Linked DNA regions of Homo sapiens: region 2 is linked to region 1. The links come from fine-mapping of genetic effects on gene expression. A gene starts in region 1. The other region holds a variant in brackets. All regions are shown on one strand. Distances are from middle to middle. Region 1 holds the start of PSD (pleckstrin and Sec7 domain containing). Region 2 overlaps GBF1 (golgi brefeldin A resistant guanine nucleotide exchange factor 1).

Region 1 (4,387 bases):
TCCGAAGAGTGTGGCCAGGCGCTCAGGGGGGCCCCCCAGCCCATTGGGGAGAGAGGAGTAAAGGCCATCTGCTCCAACCTGGGGTGGGGCTGGCGGCCCATGTACAAGGTTCCGGCTGCCAGGTAGGGCCGAGCCTCCTCTGGCGGGGAGTGGGTCTGATGTGGATGCTTCCAGCCGTAACTTCCGGTTGGAGCCAGGCCCAAGGGCTGGGGTGGGCCTGGGAGGAGAAACCCCACCCAGATCCCAGCTCCGACTCAAGCCCCCTGGAGCAGGTAGCCCATTCAGTGGCCTCACACTGGCCTTCTCCACAAAGCGGAAGATGACCACAGAGCTCTGGGCCCCGGGTGGGGGCTGCCCAGTGGGTGAAGAGGGTGCCCAGGGTGAGGGAGCAACACGGGGTGAGGGGGGGCCACGCAGAGGTGTACAGGGTGCTGTCACACGTCCCAGTTCCCGGCCTCGAGGACCTGGACCTGCCACTCGCCGTAGCAAGGAGCCTGTGCTGCCATACATGCTGGCTGGGGGGCTCTGGGGCACCGGGCCTTCGGGGAGCCAGCGGCGTGGGCATCGTGGTGGGGAGATGGCACAGTCGCCTTCCGAGCAGAAGCGCATGGCACCCTGGGCCATGCTGGGGCCGGGGGTCAGGCTGGGGGGGCAGGGATGGCGAGGCCAGGCGGGGAGTAAGGGGGCTGCATGCTCTTCAGACAGGCCTGTAAGAGAGGAAGGGGAGCATGGGGTGAACTGCCAAGGAGTTAGATGGATAGGACAGCAGAGATAGGGAAGGGAAAGTTGGCTAGGGCCTCTGAGTATCAGGGACCTAGCACACCCTGGTAATATGGGATCATTGATCCCACGCCTGGGGACTACTTCCATAGAGGCCTGACGAGAAAAGACTTATACACCCAGTGGGCCCCTGGCTCCTTTCCTTCTGCCTGAGGCCCTGAGCATCACCCTGGGAGGAGAGAGGAAGCAACTTCAAAGTTGAGTGAGCCCGGAGTTCTTATGGCACTTTGGAGCTACTTCTAGAATAGGGGAAGTTGGTACCCCACCCTCTGGAAAAGGGGTGTCAGCCAGCTGTCACCATCATACAGCCCTGTGACCCCTATAGTCTCTCTTATGGAGGCCCCTCACTCAGGGAAGGGAAACTCAGGCCTCCTGGAAGGAGAGGGAAGAGGAACAGGTGTTATATAGGGATGCTGAAGGGCTGAGAGGCACAGCATGGAAGTGGGGAGAAAAGCCTGAGCAGAGGCTCCTACCCCCAATATATACATACTGAGTGGGAAAGGGACATTCTTCTTTTTTTTTTTTTTTTTTGAGATGGAGTTTCGCCCCTGCTGCCCAGGCTGGAGTGGAATGGCGCTATCTCAGCTCACTGCAACCTCCGCCTCCCAAGTTCAAGTGATTCTCCTGCCTCAGACTCCTGAATAGCTTGGATTACAGGCGCTCAGCACTATGCCTGGCTAATTTTTGTATTTTTAGTAGAGATGGAGTTTCACCATGTTGTCCAGGCTAGTTTCAAACTCCTGACCTCAGGGGATCCACCCACTTTGGCCTCCCAAAGTGTTGGGATTACAGGCGTGAGCCACCGCACCCGGCCAGGGACATTCTTTTCTTCATACAGGTACAGACAGGCACCTACACACACACAAACACACACACACACACACACACACACACACGCACACACATACATAAGGACAAATATGTCAGTACACAGTTAAACACATTCATAGGCAACACCCTCTGGCACACACACAGACACACACACACACACACTGCTCAAAGACACACCCTCATGCACTCTCACAGTCATAACAAGTATGTGTGTAATGAAAAGGCACATGCTTGTTTTACACACACACCATCATCAAACAGGAACACACAAAGAGGTACCCAAATATATACACAAGCTGTCATTCTCCAGTGCACACAGAGGTCCAGGTGTATCAGACACTCACAGAGACCTACTGCTCACAGTCACATACACATACAGATGTACACATACAGATGTACACACTCAAGCAGGGACACACACCGTCCCCTCCCCCCCACCTACTGGGGTCTCTTGAGGGGAATCTGCACCCATATTCCTCTCCTCTCCCTCTCTCCCCAGGGGTAAGACAGATCCCGCCCAGGAGAGACCATAACCAGGTAAAGGGGCCTCTGGTGGCAATGCAGGGGAGGGGCAGAGGTCAGGAGTAGCAACCCTGCCAGGCAGGTTCCGGAAGCTCAACGGGGTCCCAGCGCATACCCGGTGCAGCCCCAACTCAATGCCACCTCAGTACTCACCGCTGCTCGCCCAGAGCTGAGACCGAGGAGAGACAGAGGAGAGGCTGGGCCCAGCTGAGCTGTGAAGGCAGCGCGGCTCCCGTTTGCTCCAGGCCCGCCCGCCTCTCAGTCCCTCCCCCTACCCCCTACGCGCCGCTCAGGCAACGCTAATCCCCCCCACCCCCCGCCCTCTCCCAGGGCCCAGAGCCCCGGAGGCTGCCAGCCCCCCTTGTCGCTAGGTCCCCGCTGGGCTCTCCCGCCAACCTAAGACCCGCCCCAGACAAGGAGGAGGGCGCATGGAACCCCTGGTTCTATTCCCCAGACCCTCACGTGCCCCACCCCACTTGTGTCCACGTCTCTCTCGCCCACCGCCCCTTGAGCCACACGTAAGGCCCGGCTGCACACGCGTGTCCCGCTCCAGACCCCACGCGTGTCCCTAGGAGGCTGCCACATGACCTGTTACATGCCACACGCGCTCCCGCCCCCACGAGCACGCGGCCGCGCCAAGCACACGGTATGGGTGTAGACTGGACCCGCCCCCTAAATCCAGGAGACCATCAACTATGGAAAGGAGATCTAGGGAACACCGTCTTGAACCCGCCAGGGGTTTTGAGTCTCGGACCCAGGAGATCCAACCCTGACCACCCTCCCAGGATGCAGCAGGGGGATGTTAAATCAGACTTCAGGAAGAACTTCCTTGCTGCCTGAGTTAGGTGTCGTCACGCCTGCCCAGGGGTAAGAGGTTAGACGGGATGAACTAGGGACCGGAAGACGTGGGGGACCGGCAACCCTTGTGCCCTTGGCCAGGGTAGAAGGGGGCCCTGCTATTTTAAGAAAGAGCCGCTGGAGTTACTATGGCAACTACTCTCTTTGGGAGGGCCAGGGCGGGCAGATGGTGACCTCGGAAGGAAGAAGGGGTCTGTTCGGGCAGTCAGGGGGCGCGAGGACGTGCGAGGCGGGGGCGCGCGGGGCTCACCGCGGGGAGGGGCGGCGCGGACTCCGCGTGGTGCTGAAGGGGACAGCGCCAGATTTGTCGCACTGCGCAGGCGCAGAGGCGCGAACAAAGAGGGGAGGGGGACGAGGCGCGCGGCCGGAGGTGGTGCGCGCTCACGTGGCTCTATCTTTGCAGGGGTCTGTCCTCCCAGCTACCCCCTCCCTAAGCAGGCTGAGGAAGAAGAGATAGCAAGCCCTCACCTAACTTGACCCCTTTCTTGTCTCTCCCCGCTGCTAGCTTCTCCCTTCTCGCTGCCTTGCGGGGTGGGGAAACGTGGAAGGAATTCTGGGAAAACCAGATGTCTGGGTTCTCTATTCCCGTCTGGCTTGATTCTGGACAAGGGGCTTCCTCTCCAGGGCCTCGGTTTCCCCATCTTTAAAATGGACTGATAGCATAGACCTGCCCACCTTTCAGAGGTGCCCGAAGCCTTGACGAGATAACAGATGAGAAGTGGTTTTCGTTGTGATGAGCCAGCTGAAGCGGTTGCACCGGAGCGCCAGACCGTCAGCGGTGCAGTGGCTCTCGCGTCCTTCACATCCCCCCACACCCATCCCGTGGATGATGGGGGAAGGCACTACTCCTGGGGTTCCCCGAAGCGGATCCTGGGACTGGGACCTGGGGACGCGGTGAGAGGCAGCCCTGAAGCTGAGTCCAGAGGTCTGGGGCGTCATTGTCCCAGGGCGGACCCAGCCCCAGACCCTACAACTAAACCCAAGGCCAGCCGAGAAGCACTACCACTGGCGGGCTGAGCTGAGCTCTCATTCTTCTTAGGACTCTGGACCTTTGGAGGAAATGAAAGGGACCCAGTTGGAAATATAGTCTTTCTTCGCGCCCCCTACATCTCTCTCCCCCGGCGGAAACGCGGCCCAAACTGTTACGAAGTGGAAGAGGCTGGATAGCTCTTCATAATTAATCAGGAATGGGAGGTTTGAGCAGGTTTACTTGATGAGGGAAACATTATAGCCTCGCCAATTCATTCATTATTTCAACAATTACTTATTGAACACCTGCTACGTGGCAGACAGTAAGAGCCTGGATAGTTTCTCCCCGTTTTTCAAAGTCGCTAAACGCGACCAGAGGGCAGAGGAGAGGCCGGTAACCTAAGAGTCCTGGCTCCGCCCCCTCCGC
Region 2 (4,387 bases), 100 kb before region 1:
TGAATTTCTGAGCCATATGGCCATTTCCAGTCCTATCCTTTTAGATAGATAGACAGATAGACCAACTGATAAAATAAGACCCAGAAAATTTGAAGTTTGGCTGTGGTCATAAAAGCTAGTGTAGTCTATAGTCTGTAAGCAAGACTTTGGATTATTCTTCTTTGTATATCCAATGGCTAGCAGTGCCAGGCCCACAGAAGGTACAAAATAATATTCACTGAAGGAGAGGATGAGGGATTTGAATGCAGGAAGGCCAGTATTGTTTCAGTAATCCTATAAATGCCATTTTAAATAATTATTTTAAATTCCCTAATAATGGGAGATTATGCTAAACATCATTTTTAGCTATTCATGAACAACAAAGCAGTGCTCATATTAAGTTTTGGGAAGTGAGTTTTACTAAAACTTAGTAATAATAGTCTTCAGACTCTGTGATTTAGGCTGCCCAGTGCCCCCTTTTTTTTTCTAACTGGCTTTTAAAAAATAACATTTAGTAGTAATATAAGCCAGGCACAGTGGCATGTGTTGGTAGTCCCAGCTACTCCAGAGGCTGAGATGGGAGAATCGCTTAGCCCAGAAGTCCAAGTCTAGCCTGGGCAACATAGTGAGACCCTGTATCTAAAAAATAATAATAGCCCATGTCTACATAGACTATTATATAAATTTAGGAAGATACAAAAAAGTTTAAAGATGCTGGGCATGGTGGCTCATGCCTGTAATCCCAGCAGTTTGGGAGGCCAAGGTGGGTGGATCACCTGAGGTCAGGAGTTCGAGACCAACCTGGCCAACGTGGAGAAACCCCATCTTTACTAAAAATACAAAATTAGCCAGGCATGGTGGCACATGCCTGTAATCCTAGCTACTTGAGAAGGCTGAGGCAGGAGAATCGCTTGAACCCAGGAGGCGGAGGTTGCTGTGGCCAAAATCACGTCATTGCACTCCAGCCTGGGCGACAAGAGCAAGACTACATCTTTAAAAAAATAAAAAAGTTTAAAGAGATGGAAACAAGAACCTCCATAGTCCAATCACCTAAAGATAACTATTATTTTATCTTTTTTTAGCGCACGCAAACACAATATCACCCTTAGCAAAATGGGAATCATATTCTATACATTTTTGCCTCTTCTTTTATCATGTTATGGGCATTGTCCCACATCATTACACATTAGAAAATAAGATCTAATGATATTATTCATTGTATGAATGTTACAGAATTTATTTAAGAGCTTCCTGTTGTTGGTTATTTATTTATTTATTTTTATTTATTTATTTATTTATTTTGAGACGGAGTCTCGCCCTGTCACCCAGGCTGGAGTGCAGTGGTGTGATCTCAGCTCACTACAAGCTCTGCCTCCCGGGTTCACGCCATTCTCCTGCCTCAGCCTCCCAAATAGCTGGGACTACAGGCGCCTGCCACCACGCCTGGCTAATTTTTTGTATTTTTAGTAGAGACAAGGTTTCACCGTGGTCTCGATCTCCTGACCTTGTGATCCGCCCGGCCTCGGCCTCCCAAAGTGCTGGGATTACAGGTGTGAGCCACCATGCCCAGTCTATTTATTTATTTTAAGATAGTGTCTCACTTTGTTGCCTAGGCTAGAAGGCAGTGGTGTGGCTCACTGCACCCTCAACCTCCTGGGCTCAAGTGATTCTCCTGCCTTAGCCCCCCAAGTAGCTGGGACTACAGGTGCGCATCATCACACCCGGCTAATTTTTGTAATTTTTTTTTGTAGAGATGGGGTTTCGCCATGTTGCCAAGGCTGGTCTTGAACTCCTGGGCTCAAGCGATCCACCTACCTTGGCCTCCCAAAGTGCTGGGATTACAGGCATGAGCACCGTGCCCAGTGGTTATTTAGATTATTCCCAGTTTTTCAATATTATAAGCAATGTGGTATAAATATCTTGGTACACGATTTTTTGCTTATCACTCTTAAGGATCCTTATAATAAATTCCTTCTATTATTTTTATTTCTCTTTAGGTAATACATGTACATAGTTTTAAAAAGTCAAATTGTGCTGCAAAGTCCAACTTCCCCCCCTTCAAGGTCCCCTCCCTAAACTCTTTTAGCTGTTTATTCAGTTGTTTTCTTTTCTATTTCTAAATAATATGTTGATACTACATTTTTAAATAGGATTTTTACATTTTAAGCATTATCTATTGACTTCCTACTCCTACATGTAGATATAGCACATTTGCAATACTCACCACCCCATTCTCCTTTCCTCCATCCTCCCAATATAATTATCACCCCATTTGGTTAAACCAGTACTCATTCTTTACCTTATTAAGACCTTATAGCTGGGCACAGTGGCTCA[T/C]GCCTGTAATCCCAGCATTTTGGGAAGCCAAGACAGGAGGATCTGTTGAGGCCAGAAGTTCAAGACTAGCCTGGGTAGGCTGGGCGCAGTGGCTCATGCCTGTAATCCCAGCACTTTGGGAGGCTAAGGCAGATGGATCACGAGGTCAGGAGATCGTGACTATCCTGGCTAACATGGTGAAACCCCGTCTCTACTAAAAATACAAAACAAAATTAGCCGGGCGTGGTGGCAGGTGCCTGTAGTCCCAGCTACTCGAGAGGCTAAGGCAGGAGAATGGCATGAACCCGGGAGGCGGAGCTTGCAGTGAGCCGAGATCGCGCCACTGCACTCCAGCCTGGGTGACAGAGTGAGACTCCGTCTCAACAACAACAACAACAAAAGGCTAGCCTGGGTAACATAGCAGGACTCCTGTCTCTAAAAAAAAAGATCTTTAGTATTATTCATTTGAATTCATTATTCAAGTTTTCCCTTCCTTTTGAAAATATGCTGTTTTCTGTTACTATTACTGTTTCTTCTCAAATTCTACAAGTTTTAAAAACTGAATATTATTTTTCCACGTGGTCAAACACACAGCTCTTCTCTTCCATTTTTATCTCTTCCTAGAAACTCCTTCTCAGAGCCTCCCATCCTCTTCTTCTATTCTGTATTGGTTACTGTCTAGACCTCAGGCACAGCTGTCCTTCTGGAACTTCCCTTCAGTTTTCTCTAGATCTCCTTTTTCTTGTTTATGCTATGTCCATTTCTTTCTTTTTTCTTTTTCTTTTTCTTTCTTTTTTTTTTTTTTTTTGAGACAGAGTTTCACTCATGTCGCCCAGGCTGGAGTGCAGTGATGTGATCTCGGCTCACTGCAACCTCCGCCTCCCAAGTTCAAGCAATTTTCCTGCCTCTGCCTCCTGAGTAGCTGGGATTACAGGTGCCTGCCACCACGCCCAACTAATTTTTATATTTTTAGTAGAGATGGGGTTTCACCATATTGGCCAGGTTGATCTCAAACTCCTGACCTAAGGTGATGTGCCTCTGCCTTCCAAAGTGCTGGGATTACAGGCGTGAACCACTGCACCTGGCCCATTTCTTTCTTGATTTACTGTCTCACATTGGTTTTTTATTTTTTATTTTTTACGTCATCCAGTAGCTTCTAGGAAAGGACACCTGGGGATGTATGGTTTTTTTAGACATTGCTTATCTGAAGCTATCTTTTTATTCTATACTGACACTAATTGAAGGTTTTACCGGATATAGAATTCTAGTTTGGAAATAGTTTTCCTTCGAAACTTGATGGCTCTGCTTCTTTTTCTTCTCATTTCCAGTGTTGATCTTGAGTAGTCTGATGCCATATTGAATCTCAGTCCTTTATATTTAAACTGGAGTTCTTACAATTTCTTTATCCTCATTATTCTGAAACACTTGGTGTGGGTCTCTTTTAGTTATTCTGCTAGGTTCTTAGTAAGGGTCTTTTTGATCTGCAAAATTATATCATTTGATTTTGGGAAATGATCTTATATTAGTTCCTCAATAATTTCCCCTTTTCCCCCTTCTCCATTTTTTCTGTTTTCTCAATTAGTCCCCCTGTTTTCTGTTCCATGTCTCACCTTCTACCTGGTGCCTCCTTCCAGAGCTTGTTTCTTATTGGTACTTCCTTCTAAAGCAACTTGCTCTTCAGCCTTTTCTGCTCTGCTTATATTTCCTTTTCTTCTGCTAAGAATCTGTTAATGAATCTATGCTTGATTTTAGCTGAAAGGCTGAGAAGCAATCTGTTAATGAATCTCAGACAGTTTTCTTTTCACCTCAAGATCATTTTATTCTACTTATTATATATTTTAGTTTTTATTTTTAATTCTTTTTTTTTTTAAATGGAGTCTGACTCTGTCGCCCAGACTGGAGTGCAGTGGTGCAGTCTCGGAGTCTCGGCTCACTACAACCTCCACCTCCTAGATTCAAGTGATTCTCAAGCGTCAGCCTCCCGAGTAGCTGGGATTACAGGTGTGCACCACCACGCCCGGCTAGTTTTTGTATTTTTAGTAGAGATGGGGTTTCACCATGTTGGCCAAGCTGGTCTCAAACTCCTGACCTCAAG

What was found. PIP is the estimated chance that this variant, and not a neighbour inherited with it, causes the effect.
Region 2: its variant is the best candidate, but not a certain one, in a credible set for the expression of PSD in whole blood (INTERVAL, PIP 0.72).

What each region holds. Positions count from the first base shown.
Region 1 is chr10:102,416,415-102,420,801 of GRCh38, forward strand. It overlaps PSD (pleckstrin and Sec7 domain containing), which reads right to left and starts at 2,371. Exons shown (of 17, transcript NM_002779.5): 1 at 2,287-2,371; 2 at 1-707. The coding sequence starts at 624. RefSeq lists an enhancer at 4,340-4,387.
Region 2 is chr10:102,316,646-102,321,032 of GRCh38, forward strand. All of the region lies in intron 3 of GBF1 (golgi brefeldin A resistant guanine nucleotide exchange factor 1), which reads left to right. Among named protein-coding and RNA genes, the nearest start is that of GBF1, 73 kb to the left of the region's middle. The variant T/C (reference allele first, on the strand shown) is at 2,314.